Regions from separate parts of the Homo sapiens genome. Here region 2 is linked to region 1. Evidence: fine-mapped expression QTL. A gene starts in region 1. The other region holds a variant in brackets. All regions are shown on one strand. Distances are from middle to middle.

Region 1 (4,392 bases):
TTGGAAGTGAATATTTAGAGCTTGGTACCTGATATGTCTTTTCTTCTTTTTCTTTTTTTGAAACAGAGTCTCGCTCTGTCGCCCAGGCTAGAGTGCAGTGGCACATCTTTTCTATTTTTATTATTATTTATTTAAGACAGAGTCTTGCTCTGTCATCCAGGCTGGAGTGCAGTGGCATGAACACGGCTCACTACAGCCTTTAACTCCTGGGCTAGAGCAATCCTCCCACCTCAGCCTCCTGAGTAGCTGGGACTACAGGCACGTGCCACCACGCCCGGCTAATTTTTGTATTTTTAGTAGAGACAGGGTTTCACAATGTTGGCCAGGCTGGTCTCGAACTCCTGACCCATGATCTACCCGCCTCGGCCTCCCTAAGTGCTGGGATTACAGGTGTGAGCCACCGCGCCCAGCCTAGGTTAAATAACTTCTAAGGACACAACTAGTAAGCTGCAGCATTAAGATACTAATTCAAACGTATGTCATGCACCCCCTTTATTTTTCATTCTCATACTATCTTTTCTTCACCCTGCCACCTCTGCCCTACCATGTTCTGTCCTGCCCCCACATTTTTTATTTATTCATAGTCTACCCACTACTGCTAGTTCAAATTTCACATATTCAATGAAATCTTCCTTGATTACTCTTATTCATGTTAATTTCTCTTTTTTTTCCAGAAGGCTCCTGAGATAGCTCTCACGGTAAATGGGGGAGGTTATGACATGGGGCATGTGGCCTTGGAGAATAGCCTATTCAAGTCCTAACTGCTTTCACACTCAATATATATTCAGACTCTCCATGCAAAGGCCAATTTGTTTTGCAGGTAATGGATAAAGAACGAATCTCACCCTCCAGTGGTCCCCAATTTCAGGTAGTGTTTTCTCATGATATGGATGTATCTCCTAAGGCTGATGTGGCTGATGATGGATGCAATTGTTTGCATTATTTGGCTGAGTTAAGTTTCCCAGGAGTAGCTGCAGAATGGAGCAGATTTACAAGGGTTATCCGGACAAACAGCATCCCCACTTTGGGACTAGCATTTAGGACACCAGAAGTCTTTCCTTTCCCTTCTCCACCCCTGCTTCTGTTGGAAGCAGACTTCAACCCCTCCCAAATCTGACTCCTTCAGGGTTCCTACATGAGAAGCAAAAGCTCATTTCCTATTCGCCATTTCCTCATGCTAACACATCCAAAACAGAGAATTTTTGTTGGCTCAGCTGCTTTAATTTTTTTGGTAGAGGAAAATATATCAACATTAGAAACCATTGATTTTTGTTGCTGATGGTCCTTAGAAAGTAATGCAAAAAGTTGCTTAGAGTTAAAAAAGTATGCCTGATAATCTGCTTTCATTTCCTCCTTTCTCAAGGTGATACAATTACAATCAGAACCTGCAAAAAATCCACAGTAAATTCTTCTCTAATGCCTTTTGCACTTAAAATCTTTAGTAGATACCTTAGCATCTTATTCAGTAATAACATGCCAACTTAGTCTGTAACTAAATATTTGGTCTTCAATTGTGACTACATAAAATGCTGAAATATCTATAACTTGGGAAGCAGCAGTTATAAATGCAGGTCTGGTATTAGACAACCTGTGTTCAAATCGCACCTCTATCGTTTATTAACTGTGTGACATTAAGTTCCTTAACGTCTCTGATAGCCTCATTTTCCTCATCTTAAAATGGGATCCTATCATTTCATAAAGTTGTATTCTATATGAGTAATTAATAATGATAATAGTTCTTTGAAGGCCTACTACACTAGGAATTATGTTGAGCACTTCACACTCATTTTATCTAATTGTGAGAACAGGGCTTCGTACACTGTAGACAACCAAAACATACTGAATGATTGAGGCGGGGCTAATGAGGTCCGCAGCTGGCACGCCATTAGAGGAGTCGCGAGTGGAGCTCAGTCATGTCTGCCCACAAAGCGCCTGCGCTTGACCTCTACGTTATATTTACTTTGGCAATGTACAAAGTGGTGAGGACAGTCCTAGCCCGGAGGGCCCCTAACACATTGTCGTCTTCTTATCCTCGGCCCTCTGCGTTAGAGAGGGCTGCCCCGAATCGGCTTTGAACGCTGACTCGCCCTTTTCCAGTCGGCCCTTGAGCCCACTAGTCAGGGCTACAGCGTTTTCCTAACCGAGGTTCAGAGGTGAGATGGAAAATGTACCCGTCTTTATTCTGTTCTCTCCCCTGCAATGACAGGGTGAATGGCGGTGGGGTTGGGGGCACGTCTCCAGAGTCCCAGTCCGCTCGGGACCCGCGGACCGCCCGGAGGCGACAACGGCCCTGAAATTGGGGGGAGCTTGTTTCCAGCCGGACTGTGTCCCTGGGCGCGCCAGAGCGCCGCGCCTGCGCGCTCAGCCCGTTGCCGCGCCGGCCCTGCGGACGTGCGCGCGCTGCCTTCGCGGCACCTGGGCCTGAGGTGCGTGCCTCCCGGGCCCTCGCCAGCTCCAGATGCGTGAGGAGGACTTCAGAAACCCGACTGAGAAGTGGAGCGACCCCCAGGGAGGGTCGGACCTGCCTCAATACCGCCAAGGTGCCTGGGGACCCAAGAACGGGGGCTCCACAACCTCAGTTCCTGAGCTCCTTTTGCTTTCTCACTTCCCCACCTATTGAGTGCGTCTCACGCGGAGCAGAAATTTGAGAGGAAGGCGTAGAGGGATTTTTTTTTGTTGTTGCTGTGGGTTGTATCACATGTGGCGTTTTCATCCTGGCTGCAGCCAAAGCAGTTTTTACCCTTACCCTTCCTTTCCTGGCGTGGGATTTTGTGGTTTCTGGACTCGGCTCGACCATTACGTGCTTATTATTGGTTGTGGGCCTTTAGAACGAGGACTGTGTGTCAGTGTCCTTTGTCCAGTGTAGTCCACTGGGAGGGAGAGGTGAGGGTTCAAGGCCAAGAGAATGGGCCCGGGGCGAGTGGGGCAGAAGCAGCCGCCGGAGATTATTCCCCAACTGAAAGTTGTGTGTGTTTCTCTTAGGTCTTTCATTTCTTGTTCGCTTACTTTCGTGAAATCCTCACATCGTTTTAATGGTACTAGTCAAGACAAGAAAATCAACAGGCTTTCAGCCTTGAGGCAACATTGGATATTATTGAGGTCAGTTTTTACAGTTTTTACAGTCTTCACGTAGAGTATCTTGTTCTTGTCAGGATAAATTCTGGATTGAACCACTGAGCAGATCTACTATTCTTTTATTTCAGTTTAAGATAAGAAAAATTACAGTCTTTTTTATTTTTATGTTATCAACAAAAATCGGTTGAAATGGGATTTGGAGCTCCATGAGTGCGTGAGGTGAGGATCCCTAACCTGACTCTCATAAACAGGAGATAGGATCACCACTTGCCACTAATGGTTCTAACAATCTAGGGCTCCCAGTAAGTGCTTTTCCACGTGGTGGGAGGCAAGTGACAACAGTTATCCAATCTTAGTGCTAACAATGGATGATTAACCGTAGCTCCTTTTTGGTACAGGAGCTGTAGGTAGCCAATCCCTGTTTTAATCAGAGGTAGTTGTGGTGTGTGATTTTTTTCTTTTAGGCGTGTTCCACGAAAGCATTTATTAAAGGGAAGAAGAAACATACAAAAGGAATTGAATCTGGCTTTATACCAAAATCCTGTGTGATCATTCAGTCCTGACATTGGACAATTACCAGGCTTTGCCTGACTGGCCTCAAGGGCCAAGCTGTCCTCCCACACCATACTCGATATGGGCCGGTGCATTGCAGTTTTCTGGAGGGGGTTGCAGTCAAGGACTTGCCCTGCCCCTCCTGCTAGATATGCAAATCCCATAACTTCTTTCCTAGCCTGGGTACCTCCATTTGGAGGCCCTCCTAGGAAGGACCGTGGCTAAGACACTTTTCTCCATTTTTGACCCAGCTTCTTTCACTCCTAGACCTTCCCCTCCCTTTCCTATTCTGAAGTTCCATAAGAGGCAGGAGATTTTTGTTAGGGGCTCCTTTCAGTGAGAGGATTACCTCATATGCACTGCATCAACTGACCCTCACCCAGTGTCCTTGTATTTAGTAGACCACTGGGGAGCCAGTGCCTCTTTTTACCACTTGCTTGCACTGTCACAGTAAGTGAATAAAGGCTTGATTACTTTTGGTTTGACTCATTGTCCTGATTGACTACCTTGGCACCTAATTGCTGCCAAGTTCTTTGCAGTTCACTGGATTCATGACTTAATTTTAATTATCATGACTGTTGCTCTGTATCGGCATGTTTAGAGACTTTGGAGCTTGTTCACCTCTAATTTCTCTAATTCAAGCTACTGAAAATGCATATTCATAGCACCAAGAGTTGATTGTTGGTTAACATTGATATCTGGGTTATATGATATATTTTACTACTATACTGGCTTACAGTCAGATTGTTTTATTTTGCGTGGATT
Region 2 (4,392 bases), 70 kb before region 1:
GGTGGGCAGATCATGAGGTCAAGAGTTCGAGGCCAGCCTGGCCAACATGGTGAAACCCCGTCTCTACTAAGAATACAAAAATTAGCCAGGCGTGGTGACATGTGCCTGTAGTCTCAGCTACTCGGGAGGCTGAGGCAGGAGAATCGCTTGAACCCGGGGGCAGAGGTTGCAGTGAGTCGAGATCATGCCACTGCACTCCAACCTGGGTGACAGAACAAGACTCCGTCTGGAGAAAAAAAAAAAAAAAACAGAAAGACACACTCATTGATTTTCAGGCAGAAGCATTGGCACTGGAATCATTCTGGTAGGTGGCTACATGTCCTCTTTGCAAATATTCAAGAAATGAGATTCCACATTCTTTCAGCAAACTCTGACAATGTTAAACAAAAATAACCACAAAAGTGGTCATTAGCTGAGCTGAGAGGACGCTTCTAGCCATCAGATTCCTTCTTTTTGTATTCTCCTTCTTTTTGTTACCTTTTTCCTGAATTAATCACTGCATTTCTATGCTTAGATAAGGGCAATGAGGTGTAGTAGAAAGGACAAGGTGTCTGGGGAAGGTCAAAGTCATTTTAAGATTTCAAGGAACAGAATCTACTCAAGCCAGATCAGTGTTCTCAGCTGTGGTCTGAGTTCCTGGTGATTTCCATCCGGTGGGCCTGGGAGAGGGTCCAGGCATCATCTGTAGCTTTTTTTTTTTTTTAATTTTTTAATTTTTTTGAGACAGGGTGTCCCTCTGTGCCCCAGGCAGGAGTGCAGTGGTGTGATCTTGGCTCACTGCAGCATCCACCTCCCTGGCTCAAGCAATCCTCCCGCTTCAGCCTCCCAAGTAACTGGATGTACAAGGATACACCACCACACCCAGCTAATTTTTGTATTTTTTGTAGAGACAGGGTTTGGCCATGTTGCCTAGGCTGGTCTCTGACTCCTGAGCTCAAGCAATCTGCCTGCCTTGGCCTCCCAGAGTGCTGGGATTATAGGCGTGAGCCACTGCACCTGGCCTATCTGTAGCTTTAAATGTTGCACACACACCTGTCCCTCAGTGGCTCCTGGTCTCTCCTTCTCTCTGCCTGTGCTTCATTCCTGCCATAGAGAGCTGATTCCTTGGCTACTATACCATCATGCCTGTGGCTCTGGTTTGTCAGGGCACCAATTCTGGGCCCCAGTCTGCAGAACATTTCAGAACTGCCTCTCAGTTCAAATTTCAGAGCAAATATGCCTGCTCACAGCACAGCAAATACATTGCTTCTTCTCTGATCTTTGTTCAAATATTGGCCCACCCCCATTTAGAATACATGACTTTGACCATGATACTTGAACTCTGAGTTCTTGTGTAAAACAGAAATACAAGCCGGGCGCGGTGGCTCACGCCTGTAATCCCAGCACTTTGGGAGGCCAAGGCGGGCGGATCATGAGGTCAGGAGATTGAGACCATCCTGGCTAACAAGGTGAAACTACTAAAATACAAAAAATACCATCTCTACTAAAAATACAAAAAATTAGCCAGGCGTGGTGGCGGGCGCCTGTAGTCCCAGCTACTCGGGAGGCTAAGGCAGGAGAATGGCGTGAACCTGGGAGGCGGAGCTTGCAGTGAGCCAAGATCATGCCACCGCACTCCAGCCTGGGGGACAGAGTGAGACTCCGTCTCAAAAAACAAACAAACAAAAACAAACAGAAATACAAATTTCCACTTCACTGGGCTACTGAAGGATTAAATGCAAATATATATATATATATAAAATAACTATCACAATGCCTGGCACCTACCAGTCAGTTTCTATAGCCTTTCAAACAAAGTGGCAAGGCTAAGAGCCCTATGTGCTGTTCGTCTCTTGCACTGACAACCCCACCTCTGAAAAGTCTGCACAGACAGCCTCAGTGCAGTCAAATAAGGCTTGTTGCTTTTCCTTTTCCTCATATTT[G/T]CCAAGAGCCATTTTCATAACTCTTTAGTACAGAAATAAGAAGGAAAACTGCTGAAACTCGAAGTGGTTTGACTTACTTTTGTTAGTCTCTAGTTGAGAAGAGAATAAGACTAAAGACCAAAATGAAATTTTTGCTTTGGGCGTGTGGGCTTAATTCATCTGTGCTATCACTCTCGTGGCCCTGAGAAATAGGGGCTGCTCTAAGTAGGCACATGGTAACCACCTACTGATCTGTTTTTGTTAAAGTGTGTTCTGTATTTTCATTTGTACTTGTTTTAAATTTTGTGAGTCTTCTGGGAGTAGACAAAGATTAAACATGGGTAGCAGGTTTTCTTTCTTTCCCTTCTGTCTTCTGACGTGTTTCCTATTTCTTTGTTGGGTAGAATTAGCGTGTTTCCTTTGTTTTTAATAGTTCCTTAAACTTTCAGTCCTACTCAGCCCTATTTTAAGCTACTTTGTCTTTTTGTTTTTCGCTTTTGGTCAGTGGAGGGACTCTATAGTTTGTCAGGATGTGCCTCTGTACGATGAAAACTAGAGAGAAAATTCTGACAAGTAGAGTTTTTTCTTTGATTAGCTTTCTCATGTGGAGTCAAGTCCTCTGCTTGCCTCACCAGGACAGGTGGTGAAGAAGCTTTTCAGATCTTTTTTTCTTCTAGGAAAGCTTGCACATCTGGAGCACAGCCCTCCTTTCTTATTTTTTGCTATGTTGTTCAAAGCTTTTTAAGAAAAAAAAACATAAACAGCAAAGAAAAAAATTGGTTTTTCATACCAAGTTGGCTTTTATTGGATGCCCTCAACTGCAGAGACATATTTAAAGGGCAGCTGGCCACCTTCTTTTGAGGTCAGACAGCTGACTCTTAATCATATTGACAATTTCTGGCTGGGAAGAAACATCTAAAAAACGTATTATGAAACATAAAAGTGGAGGCAGCTCTTTACCTTGCCACTTCCCCCTCCAGTCTCTACAGGAGTTCCTCCAAACAAAGCTCACGTTCCAAGAGTGGCAGGCCCACTTCTTCTATCTCATTCTCCTTCGCAGCCTTTGAACGACCTCTCTCATCCTCCCATCTCTCACAGCCTCACCTCTCTAGGTATTTGGAACCTTACGCTTTGCAGATGAGGAAAATTTAATGCCTCAATGATAACTTCAAATGGCATTTTAGCCCCTACAGAAATGAATAAATCATCAGATTCACTTTTCATTTGGGAACTGAAAGGGATTATAGCCCACAAGAACTTCAGGATCCTCATTTGGAACCCTGCTTTAGGAAGGCTTTTTTTCTTTTTTTTTTTTTTTTTTTTTGAGACGGAGTTTCTCTCTTGTTGCCCAGGCTGGAGTGCAATGGCACGATCTCGGCTCACTGCAACCTCTGCCTCCCAAGTTCAAGCAATTCTCCTGCCTCAGCCTCCCGAGTAGCTGGGATTACAGGCACCTACCACCATGCCCAGCTAATTTTTGTATTTTTAGTAAAGATGGGGTTTCACCATGCTGGCCAGGCTGGTCTTGAACTCCTTACCTCAGGTGATCTGCCCACCTCGGCCTCCCAAAGTGCTGGGATTACAGACGTGAGCCACCACACCTAGTCAGGAAGGCGTTTTATACAGACATGCCCTGCCCTTGCCCGTGACCTGCCCTTGCCCATGACCTTGAGGACATAGGGCTCTATTTCCACTAGTCAGAAGCCCCTAAGGCGAAGGCTTTCTGAGACAAGAAAAAGTAATTTATGGAACCAGTAATATTTAAGTGATAATAATAGGGGCTTGATTGAACATTTACTCTGTACCAGGTGCTGTATTACATGCTTTTATAAGCATTACCTCATTTAATCATCTCACCGATCTTATGATTTTTTCCCCTTGTGATTTCTTCATTGGCAGAGAAGAAAACAAATAAATGCAGTATATCGGAAACAAGTATGTATATGCATGATTTGTAGTGGCCAAACATTGGTAACAACCTGTTAACAGAGGAATACTTAAATACATTTTTTAGTAAAAAAAGCAATTTACAAGGCTGGGCGCAGTAGCTCATGCCTGTAATCCCAGCACTTTGGGAGGCCGAGGCAGGTGGATCACTTGAGGTCAGGAGTTGGAGACCAGACTGGCCAACATGGTGAAACCCCATCTCCACTAAAAAATACAAAAAAATTAGCCAGGTGAAGTGGCATGCGCCTGTAATCTCAGCTACTCAGGAGGCTGAGGCAGGAGAATCGCTTGAACCTAGGAGACAGAGGTTGCAGTGAGCCCTGACTGATTTCAGGTGTCTCTGCCCCAACAGACTCCCTGAGGTTAATAGCCTCCACTCGTGTCTCCAAGGGAAAGAGATCGTCCTCCGCCAAGGATAATAGAACACACAGACACTGTCTCAGTCTCATCCTTGATAAACTGCTGCATGATCACTGCTGTCTGCCGAAGACCAGCAGCAGGGCAGAACAAAACAGATGTACGGGAACTCCATGCAGAGAAGCAG

Evidence for each region.
Region 2: its variant is fine-mapped to the expression of ZNF770 in whole blood (TOPMed, PIP above 0.99).

Annotation. Positions count from the first base shown.
Region 1 is chr15:34,986,264-34,990,655 of GRCh38, reverse strand. ZNF770 (zinc finger protein 770) reads left to right here and starts at 2,369. Exons shown (of 3, transcript NM_014106.4): 1 at 2,369-2,540; 2 at 2,983-3,099. It overlaps LOC105370764 (a long non-coding RNA gene), which reads right to left and starts at 2,298. Exons shown (of 5, transcript NR_188212.1): 1 at 2,172-2,298; 2 at 846-971. RefSeq lists enhancers at 2,185-2,274, 3,681-3,730, 3,811-3,870.
Region 2 is chr15:35,056,749-35,061,140 of GRCh38, reverse strand. No RefSeq gene overlaps it. Among named protein-coding and RNA genes, the nearest start is that of NANOGP8, 26 kb to the left of the region's middle. The variant G/T (reference allele first, on the strand shown) is at 1,923.